Regions from separate parts of the Homo sapiens genome. Here region 1 is linked to region 2. Evidence: fine-mapped expression QTL. A gene starts in region 2. The other region holds a variant in brackets. All regions are shown on one strand. Distances are from middle to middle.

What was found. PIP is the estimated chance that this variant, and not a neighbour inherited with it, causes the effect.
Region 1: its variant is the best candidate, but not a certain one, in a credible set for the expression of LYAR in monocytes (Quach 2016, PIP 0.80).

Annotation. Positions count from the first base shown.
Region 1 is chr4:4,265,032-4,269,423 of GRCh38, reverse strand. It overlaps LYAR (Ly1 antibody reactive), which reads left to right. Exons shown (of 10, transcript NM_017816.3): 9 at 809-894; 10 at 1,401-1,723. The coding sequence ends at 1,535. Among named protein-coding and RNA genes, the nearest start is that of TMEM128, 19 kb to the right of the region's middle. RefSeq lists a silencer at 1-23. The variant C/T (reference allele first, on the strand shown) is at 2,101.
Region 2 is chr4:4,287,707-4,292,098 of GRCh38, reverse strand. It overlaps LYAR (Ly1 antibody reactive), which reads left to right and starts at 1,945. Exons shown (of 10, transcript NM_017816.3): 1 at 1,945-2,063. It overlaps ZBTB49 (zinc finger and BTB domain containing 49), which reads right to left and starts at 1,848. Exons shown (of 8, transcript NM_145291.4): 1 at 1,747-1,848. RefSeq lists enhancers at 2,920-3,457, 3,458-3,996.

The DNA of each region.
Region 1 (4,392 bases), 23 kb after region 2:
GAACTCAGGCTCGCCACTCGGCTTTTGCTGGTGCGGGTGGGGGTGGAGCCACCGTTTTTTCTGTGATGTGTGGCTGCAGTAGGGTTGTTATTATACAAAAGTTTTCTGTCTTGCTAGGCTGCCGTTTCCCGGTCCTTTGCCAAGAGAGCAGGCTTCTGTTGGGACTGTTTTGTCTGTGCTGTTGGTGTTCAGGTTGCTGGGTTCTTCAACTCCAGATCTGGGGTACAGGCAGCAAGAAGCTCACCCCGTGTTGCTCTGCAGGCCCCGAGGTCCCAGCTGGTCTCTACCTTTCAGAGTCTTCTTACATTTCTTGCCTATATAGTTTCAGGGTTCTCAGTTGTAGTGGGCAGGAGGAAGGGGAAAGTGTGTCCACTCCATCTTCCCAGAAGCAGAAGTTCCCTAGATGAGTATTTTTAGTTCCTCTATAATAGTTTGTGGTTGTCCTCTCTCTCATTTCAGGTCAAGCTGTTTTGCTCATCTTTGTCCTCCCTACTGTGCATGGACAGCCCCATGATCTTAGTGGATGCTTAGGAAATCTGTGTTGAGTTCATTACATACAACTCTATCTAGGAGTTTGTCATGCCAATAGCACATGGGCACCTGCTCACTCTTAAGAGCCAGTCCTTTGAAGGGTAGTGAGTGCTTCTAGGACATTGGAATTGAACAGATGCTTGGTGCTATGGAGTCTGGTTCATTAGAGGGTTAGCTCATTTCCTGGGAAGCAAATAGGTGTTGCAGAAGTTGTTTCTTTACCCTTCTCGTAGTACAACAAAACGAAATGTCTTAAATATTATTATTTATATTGTAGGTAAATTCAACTGGAAGGGAACTATTAAAGCAATTCTGAAACAGGCCCCAGACAATGAAATAACCATCAAAAAGCTAAGGAAAAAGGTATGGCATATGAACAAACCCACGTGTCTAACAGCTGGGGAGAACTTATTTCTAAATGTACAATTGTTTGTTTTTTTCTTTTTTCACCTAAAACACTGAAAATCTGTGTGTGTGTCTCAGTGATTTTCAAGCTGCTCCAAAGCCCCACACAGCCTCAGCCAGGGTGGTGCCTAGATTTTGGGCTTGTTTATAAGACTTTGAAGAGAGGCTCCATTTATTTAATTTTTATTGTTTGGAAATTATTTTCTAGATATTTGCTCTCTTTTGCCTATCCCAGAGCAGTGGTTTCTTCTCCTTTATTTCACTTTGTTTCTCAGGATGACTCACACATGGCCAAACCCCTGCACGTGGCTGCCGCCTGGGTTTTCCAAGGAGAGCACGCCGGTGTCGCTTGCTCCTGGGTTTCTTTTATTTTTTCCTGTTGTTCTATTTCTGGGTTAAAGACAGAACATTTTAAGATAATTTTCCAGGTCAAATACACTCATTTGATGTTTTTCTTTGTGAAGGTTTTAGCTCAGTACTACACAGTGACAGATGAGCATCACAGATCCGAAGAGGAACTCCTGGTCATCTTTAACAAGAAAATCAGCAAGAACCCTACCTTTAAGTTATTAAAGGACAAAGTCAAGCTTGTGAAATGAACATTTGTGTATTTAAAAATTGAATCCATTCTGCTGACTTCTTCCTTTCACTGCTGTTTATAAAATGTGTAATGAATTCTAACAACTCAAATTTTGCTTTTTGAAGCTGTATTTTTAAGTTAAGAAAATATATTTTTGGTATAACTTTTATGAGAAAAATAAAATATATTCTGGTCCAAACTTCTAAATTTGTTGTGGCAAAAATTACTGAACTTTACAAAATAGTTTTGTGTGAAAAAATTTTTTTCAATGTAGTGCAGCAACAAGTAAAAAAGTAATTCCTCTTTTGATCAGACTAAAAAGTATTCATTTTAACCACATCATTTCTACACTTTGTTGTTATTGTTGTTTGAGAAAGGGTCTCTGTCGCCCAGCCTGGAGTGCAGTGGCACAATCTCAGCTCACTGCAACCTCCATCTCCCAGGTTCAAGCAATTCTGCCTCAGCCTCCTGAGTAGCTGGGATTACAGGCATCCGCCACCACACCTGGCTAATTTTTATATTTTTAGTAGAGCCAGGGTTTCACCATGTTGGCCAGGCTAGTCCCAAACTGACCTCAAGTGATC[C/T]GCCTGCCTCGGCCACCCAAAGTTCTGGGATTACAGGCATGAGCCACTGTGCCCAGCTATTTCTACACATTTTTGATTAGAGATGTTTTGTGCGTTTGTTTTTTGTGTTGTTGGAATGTGTATGTGAACTGCGGGAATGGTCATGACAAGAGTCTTGTATGTGTTAATCCTTCTGTAGCCAGAAGTATGGTGCTATAGAGGAGGCTTCTCTGTAACAGGTTCACCCATCCACACTGGCCCCATCTACCTTCAGCCAAAGAGACGAGTTTGTCAGTGGCTGGATTCAGGAGCATGGCCTGTGACTGGAAGCGAGAGGCACAGGGAAATAGCTCATTGGAGACTGAATCTCTTGTGCAGCTGTGTGGCTGCTCCAGTGCTCTGATTGGACTGAATGCTTTCAGAAACAGTGTTTGAAGTCCTGGTTGATTGTGCTGTAGGACAGCCTTTTTGCCACCTCTTGGATGGTTCAGTAGGTTTTGCCCACAAGACCCTTAAAAGCTGGTCCTCTGGTACAGATCACCCCTTAGCCAGTTTCATTAATATCTCATCAATTCCCCACAAAAGCAAGTCTGGGACATGGAACAAGTAGTTTAAAGGGTTAGGACGGAGAGGAGGGATGAGAGGGAGGACAGAGGCCCTGTCTGAGCCTCTGAGTGCCCAGAAGCCCACGGAGCAGCTTCACTCTGGGACTTGCCAGCCAAGCCAAGCAGCATCTTGAGTTCAGTGCTTATTAGGCGATGTGCCACATATAAGTGTAGTGACGGCATTGAGTGGCACTGTCAGAATGAGTAGGACTCAGGCTTCAGAATCAGGCCCAGAGTCAGGTCCTGACTCTGTCCCTTATTGGCTAACCTCTGAACCTCACTTTTCTCAGCTGGACAATGGGGATAGTAAAGGTTGTGAGTGAATGAACTAATTCACGTAAAGGACACAGCATGTTCCCTTATTAGACACAATAGATCCCCTCAGTGGGTGCTGTCACTACTCTTACCGTTACCAGTAACAATTTTTGGGCCATGAGAAGCTTTAGACATTCTGGAAAGCAAAAGAAAACTGAGAAAGTGAAACAACCCAGACCACATACCTAATTAGGGACAAAAGCAGAACAGAGCTGTGACTCCGCAGTCCAGTCCCGAAGTCTTCCTATGCCAGCACTCCAGGGAGCAGAGGGAGGTGTGCTCTGCAGTTATCACCCGGGCACAGGGGAGATGCAGGGCCACCCCGTGAGAGTCACATGATGTTCTACAAGCGCCATGGAATTTCAGTTTGTGATTGTATTAGTTTGTTTTCACTCTGCTGATAAAGATATACCTGAGATGGGGTAATTTATAAAGAAGAAGAAGTTTAATGGACTCACAGTTCCACGTGGCTGGGGAGGCCTCACAATCATGGCGGAAGGCAAAAGGCATGTCTTCCATGGCGGCAGACGAGAGACGAGAGAGAATTTGTGCAGGAAAACTCTTTATGAAACCATCAGGTCTCGTGAGACCTATTCACTATTACAAGAACAGCACAGGAAAGACCCGTACCCATGATTCAATTACCTCCCACCGGGTACCTCCCACAACACATGGGAATTGTGGGAGCTACAATTTAAGATGAGATTTGGGTGGGGACACAGCCAAGCCATATCAGGGATCTTTATTTTTCCGTCAAAACTATCAGTTACCGTGATACATTTAAGGCAAAGTTTGGCAAATGTGACACAGTTAAAAGGTGTCCTTAGCACTGCAGCAGAGTCTTCATTTCTGTCCTTGCCATCCATTACCCCAGGTTCTCGAGAGTTAGAACTTCTGGGGCTGGCTGTGCTGCTCAGGAATTTCAGCAGAGCATCCATCCCACAGGGGCTGGAGGTGGCTTTAGCTCCCTCAACTCTACAAGGACAAAAAAGCAAAGCTAATGATGGTGACTCTGATGGTCCGTGTCATGGAAGGGTCTGCAGTCAGTGGCAGGAAGGACTAGCTGTAAGTGCAGTTGCTCCAGGGGTCTGGCTGCAAAGCATGGTCCAGGGGTCATTCCCAATGTCCTTGCAGAGACCACCCGTTTCAGTTTGGGCAGCTAGCTGCCTGCCTGACTTGGACTCAAAACACACATGATATTGAAGTTCCTAGAGACTTTAGAAAGTGATCTGATGATATTCCTGTAAGGCTTTTCAGCTTCATTTTGTCTAAGTTGGGTATATGGTTGAATTCTACCATGTTCTGCCTGTCCTCAGCCTGGTCTGATGAGCCTGACACTTGGGTATCTCCAACCCTGACAGCCATGCATTTTGACATACTGTGGTTGTCTTAC
Region 2 (4,392 bases):
GTCTCACCATGTTGGCCAGGCTGGTGTCAAACTCCTGACCTCAAATGATCCACTCGCCTCAGCCTCCCAAAGTGCTGGGATTACAGGCATGCGCCACCACACCCGCCTAATTTTGGTACTCTTAGTAGAGATGGGGTTTACAGGGTTTCACCATGTTGGCCAGGCTGGTCTCTATCTCTTGACCTCAGGAGCTGCCTGCCTCGGCCTCCCAAAGCGCTGGGATTACAGGCGTGAGCCACCGCACCCAGCCCTGTACCAAAGTTATTAAATGGAGGAAGCAGAAATTAATTTGGGAGGGAGGGTCAGGGAAAACTTCCTGGAAGACACATCTATGCTGAAATGTGAGTTAAGTTTGCCAGACTAAAAAAATGAGAGGGCTCACTTTCTTTGAGTATTCAGGAGGACAAACAAACAAACAACAACAACCAAACCCAAAAACAGTACGAGAGCACAAACAAGACTGAAGTACACATATGTGCCCTGAACACAAAAAACATCTTGAGCACCCTGCTTTTAAGCCTCCTGGCCATTCTGTCACTTCTGTTGGAAAGTATTTCCCTCCTTGTCCATTTCTGTGAATTCCTTCTGTTATGGTTAAACTGTTCCCCCAGCACTCCAGAATGTGATTGTATTTGGAGATCAGGCTTGTAAGAAGGTAATTAAGTTAAAATGAGGCCATTAAGGTGGGCCCTAATACAACCTGACTGACGTTCTCATAAAGAGGAAATCTGGATGCAAAGAGAGACGCCAGAGATGTGAAAACACAGAGGAAAGACCATGCGAGGACACAGCAAGAAAGCAGCCACGTGCAAGCCAAGGAGAAATGTCTCAGAAGAAACCAAACCTGAAGACACCTTGATCTTGGACTTCTAACCTCCAGAACTGTGAGAAAATAATAAATTTCTGTTGTTTAAGCCACCCAGTATTTTGTTTGCAGTCCTAGCAAACTAATACACCTTCTATTCCAGGCCCAACACTGCTCACTTTCAGAGTGAAACCTTATCACCCATATACACACACCTTGGGAGTGAAGGTTTCTCACAATACTCTGTGCATCCTCCACTCAACTTTCATTCATTCATTTAAGCAACAAACACCTAGTGACCACCACTGTGTGCCAGACCCTGTTTTAAGGGCTGAGAAGAGCTAACGTTTATTGAGTACTTACTAAGTGGCAGCCACTAGTCTAAGCGATTTACATGCACCAACTCATGAAATACGACAAGGTTCCAGGGACGCAGGTGCCGCTATGACATTCGCTTTACAGATGCGGGGCTGAGGCACAAAGAGGCCACACCGTAATGAAACTGAGCTAGGCTGTGGGCTCTGTCGTCTTAAGCGCTACTCTCAACTACAGCGTGGAAGGAAACAGAAGCCGAGAGATGGGCAGCGCGTAGCGGAGGCGGGCCGGGCTGGCTTCCAGCGGGCAAAGCCTGGAGATGAGAGGGCGCGGGTGGGGTTTCCAGGCCGAGGAAGCTGCACCAGGGAGAAGGCCCGGCTCCCAGGCCCGGAACCTGGCCGTCTGGGTCTCAGTCCGCGTCCCCTGTGATGCCCGGCACAGAGCAAATGCTCGCTGACTCTCGCAGGAGCCGCCAACCCCCCGGGTATCCTCGAGTGCCCAGAGACGGGAAGGAGCGGTGGGTCCATGCCCTTCTGGGCCACCTTCGGGCGCCCGGCCTCCCTTCCCTTCCGGGCCATTCCCACCAGCGCCAGCCCCGCACGCCTTCGCAAGGCCGGCCACCTTACCCTCGGAGGCCGCTCTCTGCCCCGCCGCCTACTCTTCACCTGCAGCAGCTGCCTTCAAGGCCACTCGCAGCGATCCGCTGGCCGCGGAATCATCACGACAACGCCCCCTTGGCTTGCCGGAACCGCCTTCCTGCTTCCGTTGGCGTCACTTCCACTGGGGGGGGCGTGGCCGCGGTGCGCAGGCGCGCTGGGTGGTTCAGAAGCGAATTCTGCACCGCGAAGCCTGAGAGGCAGGTAGCTGCGGCGCTGGGCTGGCGGCGGCGAGTCCACGTGCTCCCCGCGGCCGGTTGAAACCGTTGGCGGGCGCTGGCTGAGAGGTGAGGGGTGGTGGCCCAGAGGTCCGACCTGGGAGGCTGGGGCTCAGAGAGTGAGTAGGGGAGGGACGGGATTTCCACCGTCAGCCCCTCTGGGTTACGCATGGAGGAAGGAGTTCCATTCAGATCTCACTCCTGCTCTGGGGAAGTGGCAGGAGTCCTGGACTTAGGGTGACCAACTCGTTTTAGTTTTAAAACTTAAGGTCCGGCGTCCTGGGAACTCCCTCGGGCCTGGCCAAACCAGGACGATTGGTCACCGCCCGACTGGGCTTCAGGCTTGCTGCATGTTGGAGACAGGGCTCTTCTCTGAGCCTTGGGAGATCAGTCCCTAAAGAGGAGGCCTTAGGATGTAGCGGTCCAGAGCACATACTTAGGATCAGAATAACTACTGCGTGTGAATCTGGGTTGCCACTACCTGGATGTGGGATGACCTGGTGTAAGTTTTTTAACCTCTTTGCGCCTCACTTTCCTCATCTGTCATAACATATAGAATCTAACTCGGAGAACTGTGATGAGGATTACATGAGTAGAAATGTGTTAACCTCCTATGAGAGGGCTTGGGTGCTCCATGAATGTTAGGATTCTCTGAAGCACCTACCTCTGAGGAGAGAGGGAGGAGGATGAGGTGGGGTCTGTATTTGCAACCCTGATTTCTAGCAGAGAGGGCCCACTTGGGACTTACTCACACTGTGCCCGAGGCTCCCAGGGTCTAGCATAGTGCCTGACACATGGTAGTTACTCGAGTGAAGGGATGGTGTTTAAAACAGTGCTGGTGATGCCGTGGGTGGGGTAGGAGGCAGAGAGAAATGGCTTCTGTGCCTCAGTTTGCTCATCTGTTTAGTGGAGATAGGTGCACCTACTTCCCAGGGCTTTTGCAAGGAACAAGGGAGAGATTCTCTCCTTGTGAATGTCACCCATTGTAACCCTTGTCAGCCTCATACACAAAGGTTTAGGCAGGATGGTGGACAGAGTATGTTTGTCTGTCCTTCTCTTGCACCATACCCATGGTTTCTCAGAATGCTACCCGTGGAAGGGGCTTGAGTCTTGTCAAGTTGGCCTGACTTCTTGTTTCACAGATGAGATAACTTGAAGTTTATAGAGGCAGTGGCATGCTCAGGGTCACAGTGTTCAGTGGGGGATATCCTGGGGTTGCCAGCTAGGCCCCTCAGGTGGGCTGTTTGAGTGGTAGTGGTGGTAATGATGTGTAGGTCAGTGTCTGCATGTGCATGCAAGAATATTTTAAGAATAGTCAAGGCCAAGCGCAGTGGCCCGTGCCTGTCATCCGAGCACTTTGGGAGGCCGAGGAGGGTGGATCACCTGAGGTCAAGAGTTCACAACCAGCCTGGCCAACATGGTGAAACTCCGTCTCTACTAAAAATACAAAAATTAGCCGGGCATGGTGGCATGTGCCTGTAATCCCAGCTACTGGGGAGGCTGAGGCCGGAGAATCACTTGAACCTGGGAGGCAAAGGCTGCAGTGAGCCGAGATTGCGCCATTGTACTCCAGCCTGGGCAACAGAATGAGACTCCGTCTCAAAAAAAAAAAAAAAAAGAAAAAAAATTGAATAAGTAATACAAAAATATAGAGGGAAGAAGATTTAAAAAAAATCATTCCAATCTCAGAACCAAACCTAAGGGCATGTTATCAGGGAACTTGGTAAAGTAGGCAGCCATGGGGTGAGGAGCCAGAGAAGGTTGGAGTGAATTTATGAACATAAATGGGTGGGTTGATGGTCATATTTAAAGGAGCATGGGTTTAGGAGGGGGCTGGGTATAATAGCATTGATGTGCAAATTAGTAGGTCACAGAGAAACCTTTCTACAATTGGGCAGGGATGAAGCTTTCATATCTGGTGTCTTATTTAACTTTCCACCCAATGCTTTGAGTTAGGTATTAGATCCATTTTACAGATAAACAGATTCTGGGAAGTTAAGGTGCTTTGAGGTCATTTAGTTTTTAATGACTTTTTTGACATTAGCAGATGTAGGCTCCAGCTCAGATCCTCTACACCTGAGTCAGGGCCCTGTCCAACAAAAGCTGGCAACCATCTTGTTAAGAGAAGACTAACAAGTTCCCAGCCCCTTAGTGACCACTGGCTGCTGCCCCTCAGCTAGCTTTGCTGTCCAGACCCTGACAGCCTCTCCTGTGACATGGGTGGTCTCCTTGCCCACTGCACAGAGGTTTTATAATTAAGACTTAGGGTTCTAATATTTATACATGGAAAGTCATCTTATAGAGACCTTAATTTTTTTTCTCTTTGGATGAGGACCTCAAGGTCCCAGGTGCTGAGTAACCACCAAGCAAACGGCTAGGACATGGCAGGTCAAGATGG